Regions from separate parts of the Homo sapiens genome. Here region 2 is linked to region 1. A link means that fine-mapping ties the variant in region 1 to the expression of a gene that starts in the linked region. Tissue or cell type: whole blood. Region 1 holds a variant in brackets; the other region holds the start of a gene. Each region is shown on its reference strand, or each on the opposite one. Region 1 has its middle 7.3 kb from the start of KLF2. Region 2 holds the start of KLRF1 (killer cell lectin like receptor F1).

What was found. PIP is the estimated chance that this variant, and not a neighbour inherited with it, causes the effect.
Region 2: it holds the start of KLRF1, and the variant in region 1 is the best candidate, but not a certain one, in a credible set for the expression of KLRF1 in whole blood (TOPMed, PIP 0.67).

The regions. Positions count from the first base shown.
Region 1 is chr19:16,329,917-16,334,313 of GRCh38, forward strand. No RefSeq gene overlaps it. Among named protein-coding and RNA genes, the nearest start is that of KLF2, 7.3 kb to the left of the region's middle. RefSeq lists a silencer at 625-674 and an enhancer at 1,025-1,134. The variant C/T (reference allele first, on the strand shown) is at 2,055.
Region 2 is chr12:9,825,082-9,829,478 of GRCh38, forward strand. KLRF1 (killer cell lectin like receptor F1) reads left to right here and starts at 2,400. Exons shown (of 6, transcript NM_016523.3): 1 at 2,400-2,548. The coding sequence starts at 2,464.

The DNA of each region.
Region 1 (4,397 bases):
ATTACTTTTCATGGCTGTGATTTTCGCTATATTCTTTCTTTTCCCCAGGCAAAGTTATAATCATTTGTCGATGCTGTTTTTTCCCCCAGTTATACATTTGTATTGTCATTTTCATGGCTGCATAATATTCCTTTTAGATATGGCAGGAGTTATTTATGGAAACAAGCACTGTGGGTAAAAGGGTTGAAAAGGGTGAAGGTTTTATTTTGTTTGGTTTGAGATAGGGTCTCATCTGTCACCCAGGCTGGAGTGCAGTGGCACAATCACTACAATCTTGACCTCCTGGGTTCAAGCAATCCTCCTGCCTCAGCCTCCCGAGTAGCTGGGATTACAGGCATGCATCACCATGCCCAGCTAATTTTTACATTTTTTTGTACAGAGGGGATCTCACTATATTGCCCCTCCTGGGCTCAAGCAATCCTCCCGCCTCAGCCTCTCAAAATGCTGGGATTAAAGATGCAGACCACCAAGCCCAGCTATGGCAGGGGGTGGGGGAGAGGTGACAGTTTTGAGGGGCTTATTGGCATGGTGCTGGGGAGAGATGTAGGAGCTATTTTTCTGCTAGGCACTTCCTGTAGTTCTGGGGGCCCCAGCACCCAGGCAGGCTGCAGAATGATGTGGTGTGAAGTGGGAGGAGGAAGGGGGCGTTGTCAGAGGGCAAGATGTCTATAGGCTCACCCCTGACTCAGCACCCAGCCCTGTCAACACGGTTGAGTCAGCACCCACGCCCGGCAGCCCCAGGTGGAGTCCCAGGACCATAGGCTCAAGCTGATTTGTCAGGTGCCAGGGCTGGGTGGCTCCGATTGCCCCGGCCTGAGCTGTGTCAGCTGTGCCAGACCAGCGAGCATCAGCCTTGGAGCTGGGCACAGCGGTGGCTCATGCCTGTAATCCCAGCACTTTGGGAGGCCGAGGTGTGGGGATCTCTTGAGCCAAGGAGTTTGAGACCAGCCTGGGCAACATAGAGAGACCCTGTTTCTGGGTGGGTGGGGGGCGGGGGAAGAGAGAGAGAAGAGAGAAAAAACAAAAGACATTTGGAGCTGAATCATTCTCCAGTGCGGGGCCACCCTGTGCACTGCAGTGTTCAACAGCATCTCTGGCCTTCACCGACTCAATGCCAATTAACACCCGTCCCCTGGCCAGACCCGGGGGCTCACACCTGTAATTCCAGCACTTTGGGAGGGCAAGGCGGGTGGATCACTTGAGCTCAGGAGTTCGAGGCCAGCCTGGCCAATATGGTGAAACCCTGTCTCTACTTAAAAAAAAAAAAAATTAGCTGGGTGTGGTGGCAGGCGCCTATAATCTCTGTCATCTCAGCTACTTGGGAGGCTGAGTCAGGAGAATCACTGGAACCTGGGAGGCGGAGGTTGCACTGAGCTGAGATGGCGCCTGGGTGACATAGGGAGAGTCCATCTCAAAAAAAAAAAGAAAGAAACCCTCAGATCAGCCGTGCGACTTTGCCTGCCTGTGCCTCAGTTTCCTTGGGTGGAAAATGAGTTTGCTGCTGTGAAAATGAAATGAGACACTAAAGCTCAGAGCCCACCCCTGGGGTGTGGCCAGCACAGTGAGTGTCCTCTGATAAAGCTGGTGTGCCTGAATTTTAAGGCCCCTTCCTCCCTCTCTCTCCCTCTCCCCACAACCCTCTTCGCTCATTCATTCATTCATTCACCTGTTCATTCAGCAGATGCTCTGTATGGCAAGCAGATATGACTCAGAATCTCAGGAGTGACTCTGGCCGGGCGCAATGGTTCACACCTGTAATCCCAGCACTTTGGGAGGCCGAGGCAGGTGGATCACCTGAGGTCAGGAGTTCGAGACCAGCCTGGCCAACATGGTGAGACCCCGTCTCTACTAAAAACACAAAAATTAGCTGGGTATGGTGGCAGGCGCCTATAATCCCAGCTACTCGGGAAGCTGAGGGACGAGAATTGCTTGAACCCGGGAGGCAGAGGTTTCAGTGAGCTGAGATCACACCACTGCACTCCAGCCTGAGAGACAGAGCGAGACTCTGTCTCAAAAAAAAAAAAAAAAAAAGTGACGTAGCCTCTGGGCCTTGC[C/T]CAGAGTCAGTGCCAAAATGTTTGTCGCATGACCTAACTTTGTGCTAACGGTGGACCCTGTGACTCGAGCTTGGGTGCTTTCATTCTGGGCACCTTCAACAAATTATCTCTTTCAACCTCCCCACAAGCCTGAGGGTTGCCTAAGCACCCCCATTTTCTAGAGGTGGAAAGTGGGGTTCAGAGAGGGGAAGGTTAGCTGGGGGACCTGGTGCAGGTGGCAGAGCTGAGGCTTCAACCCAGGTCTGCCTGGCCTGGCCACCGCAACTCCTCCTGTGCCTAGAAACATCTGAATGCACCAATGCATCAGGTTTGCCCTGTTTCCCTCCACACACAGGTTCTAGGGGTTCCTGGAAGCCCTGCTGAGTTCCTTCTAGGCTTTTGTCTAAAAGGAACTGAGAAGCCCATTTGCCAGGAATATCCCAGACAGGGAGGGACAAGGGGTCGGGAAGAGGCTGGGTGAATAGGGTTCCCTGAGGTGCCCTATAAGAAGTTAGGAGGAGGCCGGGCACAGTGGCTCACGCCTGTAATCCCAGCACTTTGGGAGGTCAAGGCAGGTGGATCATTTGAGGTCAGGAGTTCGAGACCAGCCTGGCCAACATGGTGAAACCTCGTCTCTACTAAAAATACAAAAATTAGCTTGGAGTAGTGGTGGGCACCTGTGATCCCAGCTACTTGGGAGGCTGAGGCAGGAGAATTGCATGAACCCGGGAGGCGGAGGTTGCAGTGAGCCGAGATCACACCATTGCACACTAGCCTGGGCGACAGAGGAAGACTCCATCTCAAAAAAAAAATAATAATAAGTTAAGACGAGCCTGGGGGCCAGACACCATGGCTCACGCATGTAATCCCAGCACTTTGGGAGGCCAAGGCAGGTGGATTACTGGAGGTCAGAAGTTCAAGATCAGCCTGGCCAACATGGTGAAACCCCATCTCTACTAAAAAAAAAAAAAAAATACAGAAATTAGCCGGGCGTGGTGGTGCACACCTGTAATCCCAGGTACTCGGGAGGCTAAGGCAGGAGAATCACCTGAACCCAGGAGGCAGAGGTTACAGTGAGCCGAGATTGCACCACTGCACTCCGGCCTGGGCAACAGAGCAAGACTCTGTTTCAAAAAAAAAAAAAAAATGCTAAACATGGAATTGCCATAGGTCCCAGTGATTCCATTCCTAGGTATAGTCCCAAGAGAAATAAAAACCGGGACACAAACAGATACTTGCACACACGTGTTCGAGGCAGCACCATTTACATGCGCCAGACGGTGGAAACAGCCCAAATACCCATCAACTCATGAATCAATAAAAGTGTGGTATATCCATATGACCCAGTGGTTTTTGTGTTTGTTTTTTGGGATAAGGTCTCGCTCTGTTGCCCAGGCTGGAGTGCAGTGGTGCGATCACAGCTAACTGCAGCCTCGAACCCCTGGGTTCAAGCAATCCTCCTGCATCAGCCTCTCGGGCTGGTTCTTACTGGGGGCTCCCCTGAGTGCAGAGAACAGGCCCAAGCTGATGCCAGTTAGGGAAGTCATCTCTATAGTTCTAGAAGGGATACTGAGCCCAGGAGGCTGGAGACAGGGGCCTCACCAACCCTCTGCTCGTAGCCTGAGCTCTTTCTCCAGCGTGATTTGATCTGCCCCATCACCGTGTTCTTTTCTCTCTCATCCCATATTTTCTTTCTTTCATTCTTTCTCTTTATTGTGATTAAATATACATAACATAAAATTGACTGTTTTTGTTTTGTTTTGTTTGAGACAGGGTCTCACTCTGTTGCCCAGGCTGGAGTGCAGTGGTGCGATCACAGCTCACTGCAGCCTCGACCTCCTCAGGCTCACGTGATCCTCCCGCCTCAGCCTCCAGAGCAGCTGGGACTATAGGAGTGTGCTACTACGCCTGGCTAATTTTTCTATTTTTTGTAGAGCCTGAGTCTCACTGTGTTACCCAGGCTGGTCGCAAACTCCTGGGCTCAAATGAACCATCCACCTTGGCCTCCCAAAATGCTGGGATTACAAGAGTGAGACATTGTGCCTGGCTAAAATTCACTTTTTTTTTTTTTGTGACAGAGTCTTGCTCTGTCACCCAGGCTGGAGTGCAGTGGCACGATCTCGGTTCACTGCAACCTCCCACCTCAAGTGATTCTCCTGCCTCAGCCTCCCGAGTAGCTGGGATTACAGGCGCACGCCAGCACAGCCGGCTAATTTTTATATTTTCAGTAGAGACGGGGTTTCACCATGTTGGCCAATGGTCTCAAACTCCTGACCTCAGGTGATCCGCCCCCCTTGGCCTCCCAAAGTGCTAGGAATACAGGCGTGAGCCACCACACCCAGCACAAAATTGGTTATTTTTAAG
Region 2 (4,397 bases), not on the chromosome of region 1:
TACCAATGACATTCTTCACAGAACTAGAAGAAAACTATTTTAAAATTCATCTGGAACAGAAAAATTAGCCCAAATAGCCAAGGCAATCCTAAGCAAAAAGAACAACACTGGAGGCATCACATTGCCCAACTTCAAATTATACTACAGTACTACAATATCCAAAATAACAAGGTACTGGTAAAAAAAAAAAAAAAAGCAGACACATAGACCATTGGAACACAATGGTCTAATGCAGACACATAGACCACTGGACAGAAAGCCCAGAAATAGTGCTGCACAACTACACCCATCTGATCTTCAGCAAAGCTGACAAAAACAAGCCATGGGAAAAGGATTCCCTTTTTAATAAATGGTGCTGAGATAACTGGCTAGCCACATGCTGAAGATTGAAAGTGGACCCCTTCCTTATACCATATACAAAGCTCAACTCAAGATGGATAAAATACTTATGTCTAAAACCCCAAAATATAAAAAACCCTGGAAGATAACCTAGGAATTACCATCCTGGACACAGGAATGGGCAAATATTTCATGACAAAGATGCCAAAAGCAATTGCAACAAAAGTGAAACAAAACAAAACAAACAAACAAAATAATTAACTGTAAGAGCTTCTGCACAGCAAGAGAAACTATCAACAGAGTGAACAGATAATCTACAGAATGGGAGAAAATTTTTGCAGACTATGCATTTGACAAAGGTCTAATATCCAGCATCTGTAAGAAACTTAAACCAATCAACAAGCAAAAAATAAACAACCCCATTAAAAAGTGGACTAAGGACATGAACAGATACTTTTCGTGTTTTATTTATCAATCTTAATTTACTTCTTATCCATTTGGAGTGTCAAATAATGGCCAAAGAAATTGTAATTATAAATTAAAGAACAAAATTTAGCAAGTAAAAATAAACAAAAATAACACAAAAATGTATTATCCTTTTACTTTTGTCATTAAGCAACAAATATATTTCTGATAATTTGTCAAATATTTTCTCCTTGAATTAATAGTTTATCTTATTTAAAAGGGTATATTGTGTTTTTAAAATTTTATTTTAAATTTGGGAGTACATGTGCAAATTTGTTACATAGGTAAACTTGTGTAATGGGGGTTTGCTGTAAAGATTATTTCTTCACCCAGGTATTAACCCTAGTACCCATTAGTTATTTTTCCTGATCCTTTCCCTCTTCCCACCCTCTATCCTCCAGTAGGCACTAATCATTAGGGAAATGCAAATTAAAACCACAGTAAGATACCATCTCATACCAGTCGAATGGCTATTATTAAAAAGTCAAAAAATAACAGATGCTGATGAGGTAGTGGAGAAAAGGGTTCACTTATACACCTTTGATGGGAGTGTAAATTAGTTCAACCATTATGAAAGATAGCATGGTGATTCCTTAAAGACCTAAAACCAGAAATTTGACCCAGCAATCCCATTACTGGTATATACCCAAAGGAATATAAATCTATCATAAAGACACATGCATGCATCTGTTCATGGCAGCACTGTTGACAATAGCAAAGACATGCAATCAACCTAAATGCCCATCAATGGTAGACTGGATAAAGAAAATGTGATACACATATACAAAGGAATACTATGCAGCTATAAAAAAGAATGAGATGATGTCCATTGCAGGAACATAGATGAAGCTAGAGGCCGTTACCCTTAACAAACTAATGGAGGAACAGAAAACCAAATACCACATGTTCTCACTAATAATTGGGATCTAAATGATGAGAACACATGTACACATAGAGGAGAATGACAGACACCGGAGCCTACTTGAAGGTGGAGGGTGAGAGGAGGGGCAGGATCAGAAAAACATAACTATGTAGTACTAGTCTGAATACCTGGGTGATGAAATAATATGTACAACAAACCCCTGTGACATGATTTTACCTATATAACAAACCTACACATGTAGCCCTGAACCTAAAAGTTAAAAAAAATCAAATTATACTGTTAAATTATTAGCATGATTTATAAACAATATTGTTTTAGGATAAAGAATTTAATTGCTTGGCAATTGCAAATTATTAAATTAAATATCAATATGTTAGGGAGGCTAATTCAAATGATATAAATATTTAGGCTATAACAAAAGGCAGCTATATATTATTAACCTCACCTCAAAAAGGGGCATAATTTCCATTCCCTTGACTTTAAGGGTAAATTAAGAGAAATTTGTAAAGCACTCAAAAGAATATTCAATTCAATATGTGGTGGACAGTTGAGAAATTATGTGTTATCTATGTCATGGGAAAGCAACTTTTAAAAAGAAAACATTTCCTCTGAGGTTTTCACAAATAAGTGAAACTGTGAACCCTCATATGTACTGTGAAAGGACAATTTGAGGAGCATCTCTGATTAGCAGCAGATTTATTATTCTTTCCTCATTTCATGTTATACTTAATAAAACAAAACATACCTGTATACACACACATTCACTCACATTGAAGATGCAAGATGAAGAAAGATACATGACATTGAATGTACAGTCAAAGAAAAGGAGTTCTGCCCAAACATCTCAACTTACATTTAAAGGTATGGAATTTAATTTCATTTTTTCAATTGGTGTGAATTAACATGGTAGTTTCCCGTATCCTGTTCCATTGTGTTATTGGACTGTTTCAGTATTTGGGTGCTTTTCTTTCTCCGTCTCTGTATCTCTCTCACCTGTCCTCTCTTTCAATATTAATAATGATTTAAAAATAACAACCTCTCTTACCATTTAAGAAACACCAGTTTCCGGCACTATACAGAATGTTTTATCTATGTTCCTTCATTTAATCTTACAAATTTACTATGAGATAATCTCTCTCTCTCCCATTTATCAATGTGGAACTAACACTTACTTGTAATATTTTGTCTGATATAATTTCTTAAGGACATTCTCTGAGGAAATATGCATACTCAATTAAAATTAATAATTTCAAATTAGTGAATATTTGCTGCCATTCACCTCCTTATCATTCATAGAATATGGTGTTTTAATGCTATTTTTTTTTTTTGAGACGGAGTTTCACTGTTGTTGCCCAGGCTGGAGTGCAATGGCATGATCTCGGCTCACTGCAACCTCTGCCTCCCAGGTTCAAGCAATTCTCCTGCCTCAGCCTCCTGAGTAGCTGAGATTATAGGTGCCCGCCACCATGCCTGGCTAATTTTTTGCGTTTTTAGTAGAGATGGGGTTTTACCATGTTGGCCAGGCTGGTCTTGAACTCCTGACCTCAGGTGATCCACCCACCTGAGTCTTCCAAAGTGTTGGGATTATAGGCATGAGCCACCGCGCCCAGCCTTTAATACTAATTTTTAATTCAACTTCTCAAAAACTTTATGCTTTTCACCAAGTTGACTCAAAATAAAGTTTATACACCAGCAATCAACATTTTAATTTGCTACTTCAAGCATACCCTCCATACACAATGCAATTCCATCATGCCACCTTAATGTGATTTGGCAAAAGAGATAAGCAGAAATTAAAGACACAAATAATCACAGTTATAGAGACTGTCTGTTCTGTTCTGTTGCTTTCTAAATATTTCTCTTTTAATAACTTCACCCATGAAAATTTTACTTATCTCTTGAGTCCTTCCACAAGTATCATCCATCAGTGATTCATCTTAGAGTTACATACGTGCTATGTATAAGAAATTTATTGCCTCTTCCATGTGAATTTTTAGATTCCCATATTTTCAAGTCTTTACTTCCTACACTCAATTTTTATTTCATTTTTGGAAATTAGAGATATTAAACCTGAAAGACTACAACATGTAGTGACTTCTCTGCAGACTTTTTTCCACACTCTGTTCATAAATGTCTCTCTGAAGCAAAAATGTGCAGATTTTCGGCTCCCAGATATTTAAGTGACACATACTAATATTTATGTCTTGTACCTTTAGCTAATATTTATTAAAGCTTGAGGTAAGACGTATTTTATGTGAATTAGATTGACAATGTGAGCCTTGGGGTTATGATGTTCATTCATTTAACTTAATTTTGTGATGACATATTTGTAAATCTTTTCTCATATATTGAAAAACCTTTGTTGCCAGTGATAGTAAGAAATTACATAATTGCTCTATCCCACTATACATATGTAGTAGTTTCAGAATCACTATAGAAATAATATTATAATAATAGTTACTTAAAACAGATTAAAATGTTTTGCGGTTTTAAAAAATCCTTAAGATATATTCCATTGAGCATGCACAGTTAAATGTTTTAAAATCACTTTAAGTAATTCCTCTCTCTATAGTGAAGACACTAACAATACCTAGTTAGATTCCTTTTCTTCATTTTTTATGGATTTTTTTTCATTTTTGTTTAACTTACTTTATAGTAGCATAAAACATTTACATATTTTCAGTCAAACTTATATAATGAGGGGCCAAGT